Regions from separate parts of the Homo sapiens genome. Here region 2 is linked to region 1. The links come from fine-mapping of genetic effects on gene expression. A gene starts in region 1. The other region holds a variant in brackets. All regions are shown on one strand. Distances are between the middles of the regions. Region 1 holds the start of MLYCD (malonyl-CoA decarboxylase). Region 2 has its middle 15 kb from the start of OSGIN1.

Region 1 (2,758 bases):
ACCATTCCATTTGTTTAGGTCTTCTTTAATTTCCTTCAATACTGTTCTGTGGTTTTCCATCTACCAGTCTCACACTTCCTTGGTTAAACATGTTTCTTTTATCCCTTCAGATGTTGTTGTAAATAGAATTGTTTCTTTAATTTCATTTTTGGATTGGGGCAGTCTTTTGAAATAAGGACATGAGTGGGAAAAAGCAGAGGATGGCTGTTGACGCCTAGAGAAAAAAGTATAAACACAGAGAAAAAAAAAACAGAAGCCAGAAATTACATAAAAAGGAAGGCACCGGGAAAGATGAGAAAGAACAGGGTTGTGGGAGTACTACACTTAGCAAATGCTTAAGCAAAGTCAAGCTTTCAAGACAAGATTCCTAAAGCAAGGCAGGAGTATCCTAGGACAGACAAAAGCTCACTCGACAAGGCAAAGAGACAAACACCAGAGTTTGGACCCCACCAACTCCCTTAGCCAGCTGGCAATATGGTTTCACCACTTCTTAGAAAAGAGGAATGGAGAGGTGTCCTCAAAAGCCACCACTAGGCTTTCAGAATGTTTTGTGTGTCTGTGTCTTGGCAGAATGAGCCAAACGTACTTTCTTCGTGCCCCATAAGATGAGACACACCCAGCAAAGGCTGTCCTCATACAGAACTACCTCCAGGTGTCTTTTATACTGCAAGACCTGCACCAAAGGGTTCTACCTATAGAAATCCTAGCACCTAGACATAGTCAACCAAGTACATGGCTCCCTCACCCTCCAACCAAAGATGCCATATTTCCATCAGAGTGGAACAAAATCCCACTGTGTTCCTAATGCCTCCTGCAATTTTGCATGTGGGAGACATGGCTGGTATGTGACATTCTCTTCTACAGATTGTAATGGATTGGGGAAGGAGGGGGAACTAGAGTTCAGGCCTATCTTTCTAGAGGACAAAATAAATATGCCTTGATAACTGCAATTATCTGAAAACTATTTCAAAGAAAACTCTTTGTCTCATTCTGGCATTTGCTCAAGGGTATGGCTTTCCATCAGTCTCTCTGTCTCCATGTCTCTTTTACATACATATGTATGTGTATATGCGTGCGTATGTGTACATACATCCATACATATAGACATATTCTCTCTCTCTCCACACACACTCACACACCCCTCCAACCTCTGTGGCTCTGAGCGTCATGTGTGTAAGACACTGACGCGAATGGTGAGTGCCTAGGCAGGGGTCAAACAAAGGCTACCTACCATGCCAGAGGATTGCCACAAACACCTCTTAAGCAAGCATATTCCTTGGCTCCTCCCAGACACACTGAATCTGAATCTCTAGGATTCTGATTTCGGAGCCCAGGAATCCTCCGGTGCAGGAGTTCCCAGGTGACTCTGATGCACCGGGAGGCTGGAGGCGCTCGGATCTAGAGAGGAGGCGGCACTTGTGCAGTGCAGTCGGGAAAGAGAGGAGGGGCTGGGCCGGTGCCTTTAGGCGGTCAGGTGTTAGGACCGGAGTACAAGCCGCCAGCCGCGCGGGAGCAGGCCCCGAGGCAGCCCAGCCGCGGGGCAGTAACCTTTAGCCACACTTGGCCTCCGGCCGCCGCCAGAGCCGCTCCGCCCCCGCCGCCTCGCCCCCACCGCCCCGCCCTCCTATTGGCCGCGTCCCCAGCCGGGCTCGCGGCCTCGGCCAATGGGGCCGGCGCGCGCCGGAAGCCGGAAGCGCGGCAGCGGCGGCGGCGCTCCCCCTCGGCAGCTGTTGTGGGGCACCATGCGAGGCTTCGGGCCAGGCTTGACGGCCAGGCGTCTCCTCCCGCTGCGGTTGCCCCCGCGGCCGCCCGGGCCCCGGCTGGCGAGCGGGCAGGCGGCCGGCGCCCTGGAGCGGGCCATGGACGAGCTGCTGCGCCGCGCGGTGCCGCCGACGCCGGCCTACGAGCTGCGCGAGAAGACACCGGCGCCCGCCGAGGGTCAGTGCGCGGACTTCGTGAGCTTCTACGGTGGGCTGGCCGAGACGGCCCAGCGGGCCGAACTGCTGGGCCGCCTGGCGCGGGGCTTCGGCGTGGACCACGGCCAGGTGGCGGAGCAGAGCGCCGGCGTGCTCCATCTGCGCCAGCAGCAGCGGGAGGCGGCGGTGCTGCTGCAGGCCGAGGACCGGCTGCGCTACGCGCTGGTGCCGCGCTATCGCGGCCTCTTCCACCACATCAGCAAGCTGGACGGCGGCGTGCGCTTCCTGGTGCAGCTGCGGGCCGACCTGCTGGAGGCGCAGGCCCTCAAGCTGGTGGAGGGGCCGGACGTCCGGGTAAGGGGCCGCCGTCGATCCCCCGGCAGCGCGGACTGGCCGCCCTCCTCGAGTAGTCCTCACTTGCCCCCTCCAAGTCCCACACACCCCGCCTTCCCTGCCCGATAGCACGCTCACTTCGCCCGCAGTTACCGCCTGCCAACTGTGTCCCCTTCCCACGCTGTCTGAGTCCTGGCCTCGTCAGAGCACACCCCCGCCTTCCTCCAGTCTGTCCTTGAAGTCCTCACTTGTATAGTGTTTACTAAATACTCAGCACTTGGTGGTCTTTAAGGTAGCTGTCACCTCTCGTACCTGATTAGTGTGTGCTCTACAGTCTTTTGAAATTATTGTAGCTGAGAAGTGTTTCATCTATATGGTATACCTGAACTAGAGCATCAGGCAGCCTTCTGAGACCCTGGATGGTGTTTCAGAAGTTCACTGGGCACCCGCTATGTGTGAGACATTGTCCTGAGAAGTCCTGTGAAATGCACAAAGGTAAATAGGACTCA
Region 2 (3,016 bases), 39 kb after region 1:
GCCACCCGTCATTCTCAGTCACGGGAGATGGCTGCTGTTTTCCTCTCCATTTTGCCCTGAGGAAACTGAGACCCAGAGTGGTTAAGTCACTGGCCCAAGCCACACAGCCGGGAAGCAGCCCCTGAGGCTGGTTCCTGACTCCACTGCCTCTCGGCCCTGTGGGGTCAACCCTCTGTCCCCCTCTCCGCTATTGCCATCTTCACCCCCAGAGCTCCACACCCTCGGGTCCTACTGCTGACCTCAGACCCACAGGGCCCTGCCAGCCCCCAGGCCTCTGCCTGTGCTCTTCTTTCTGCCTGGAGTGCTCTTCCCGTGGCCGGCTCCCCACCCACTCCTCGGGCCTCAGTGGAAAAGCCCCCTCTTCACAAAGGCCAGCCCTGGTGGCCCATCTTCCCCCCGCATCAGGACCCCGTCTCGCCTTCCTGCTCACTCATTCATTGAATGCAACTGTACTGAGCATGCGCTGAGTGCCGTCTGGGCCAGGGATGAAACAGAGAATGAGGACAGCGCGGTCCCAGCTTTGGCAGACCTGACCTCCGGCACAGGGTGTGCGTTCTTGGGCACAGCTACCAGCATGGCCGGTGCTGTCATCTGACCTTCTCCTTTCCATCCTCCTTCTTAAATATTCATGAGCTCATGGGATCGTGCCTGAGATTAGCTGGTCTTCCCGTATGACCCTGGAGAATCACTGATCGTCGTCGTCACCCAAGTGAATCCTTGTTGCGCTGCCCCTAGGTCCCCCTCATCTTGGGCTCTCCCCACCCAGCATCTGCCATTTCCACCCTCAGGAAATCCCTCCTGCTCCTCAGTGGGAAGACAGAAGCACCAGAGTGGCTTCAAAGGTGAGTCCTCAACTGACAGAGCTTAGGGCCGGTGTGGCAGATGGCATGCCCTGAACTGGCTCCCATGCTTCCCAGAATGGCCGCTATCTGTGGAGTTCTGTGGAGCACAGGCCTAGTTTGAGCCCCTCAAGACCAAGTTTTGAGTCTCCTCATTTTACTGGTTTCTCTTTTCTGAACATTTTCCAACTTGGTGTTTCCATTAAGCTGTGGGGCTCAGAACGTGGTTTCATTGATCAATGACAAATCAAGCAGGACCATCACCTCCCACATTCTGTAGACTATGCCCTTATTAATGTGACCCAAGATTGCAATATAGAAAGATCATCATCCTCTTGCCTCTCCCACTGATCCTAGCTCTAAGGCAGTGGTTCTCCCCAGCCTACACAATGCAATCATTTGAGAATTTAAAAAATCCAGGATTATCATCTCTGGAGATGGTCTCAGGTGATTAC[G/A]ATGGGTAGCCAGAACCAAAAGATGGAGATGCTGCTGTCCCATGGCCTCCTAGTCCTCTGAGCCCCAGCCACTATCCCTAACTCCTTAAGTCCCTGGTCTCCAGGAGTTTAAGGGTGACAGTCGGCATTTATGCCAGCTGCTAACCATGGTTCCCAAAGTGTGTTCCAGGGAGCAGTAGTGCTGCAGAGTGCAAAGCTGCACATCTCTTTCCAACTCCACTGTTCAGAAGTATTACACTGGTAACGTGACATTGATCATGGTGGGAGTGTTCACGCCACAGATATTGGTGGACTGCAAAACAGGGCTTTCCACAGTGCCCCCCAAGGCTGGTGGTTGGTGGTGGTTGTTTTTTCTTGACATGGAGTCTCGCTCTGTCACCCAGGCTGGAGTGCAATGGCATGATCTCGGCTCACTGCAACCTCCACCTCTCACATTCAAGTGATTCTCCTGCCTCAGCCTCCTGAGTAGCTGGGATTACAGGTGCCTGCCACCACACCTGGCTAATTTTTGTATTTTTAGCAGAGGCAGGGTTTCACCGTGTTGACCAGGCTGGTCTCAAACTCCTGACCTCGTGATCCGCCCACCTCAGCCTCCCAGAGTGCTGGGATTACAGGCGTGAGCCACCACGCCCGGCCCCAAGACTGGTTGTTAAACATTTGTCAACACAGCACTGTCCTGACCACCCACTCCTCTCACCCTCTGGACTCTGTCACAGCCACCCATTGATCAAAAGCAACCAGAAGCCAGCTGGCCAAAGCGCGTAAGGGTGCAGAGCCTGGGGCTCAGCCTCCTGGAGCTCAGAGCAGGACAGAGGAGGTGGAAAATGGATGGGGGAAGCCAGTAGAAAATGATCAGCCTGCCCACACCTGCTCTCAGGGAGACATGACACGTGCAGTCAACATGTTCCTCTGCGTGAGGCAGACCTGCATGCCAGCACTGAGCCAGGCGACCACCTGGTAGCTGGATGATCCATCAAGGAGGCTCTGGTGCCCTGCTTATGTAATAGACCACGTCAGCCCCATGTACTAGAACCTCTTTTTAATTTTTTGGAATAGTGATAACATCTACTCAAAGAAAACGATGCTCCATTTTGATTGATTCATCTCTGACACATTCCTAGGCCAGGAGTCAGAAGCTCTCACACTTGAGCATACATCAGAACCCCTGGGTAGGGGGGAGGTTAAGAACATGATTGCAGCCGGGCACGGTGGCTCAGGCCTGTAATCCCAGCACTTTGGGAGGCCGAGGCGGGTGGATCACCTGAGGTCGGGAGTTCGAGACCAGCTTGATCAACAGGGAGAAACCCCATCTCTACTAAAAGTACAAAATTAGCTGGGCGTGGTCGTCCATGCCTGTAATCCCAGCTACTTGGGAGGCTGAGGCAGGAGAATCACTTGAACCCAGGAGGTGGAGGTTGTGGTGAGCCGAGATTGTGCCATTGCACTCCAGCCTGGGCAACAAGAGCAAAACTCCGTCTCGAAGAAAAGAAAAACGATTGCTGCGCCCCAGAGTCAGACCAGTGTTTCTGATTCTGTGAGTCGGGAGGATGAAGGGTGCCCACGAACTTGGATTTCAAAATCCCCAGGTGCTGCTGTCCTGGCACGCCACTTTCAGAATTCACTGCTGCATGTAGACTAAACTGTAATACTCCCCTCCTCTGACAAAGCCAAAGTGGCTGGCTGTGTTATCACCCCAGCAGGCATGGAGGAAGGGCCGGGCCT

The links. PIP is the estimated chance that this variant, and not a neighbour inherited with it, causes the effect.
Region 2: its variant is fine-mapped to the expression of MLYCD in fibroblasts (GTEx, PIP 0.94).

Annotation. Positions count from the first base shown.
Region 1 is chr16:83,897,403-83,900,160 of GRCh38, forward strand. It overlaps MLYCD (malonyl-CoA decarboxylase), which reads left to right and starts at 1,713. Exons shown (of 5, transcript NM_012213.3): 1 at 1,713-2,270. The coding sequence starts at 1,743. RefSeq lists silencers at 1,483-1,912, 2,213-2,382.
Region 2 is chr16:83,936,343-83,939,358 of GRCh38, forward strand. No RefSeq gene overlaps it. Among named protein-coding and RNA genes, the nearest start is that of OSGIN1, 15 kb to the right of the region's middle. The variant G/A (reference allele first, on the strand shown) is at 1,295.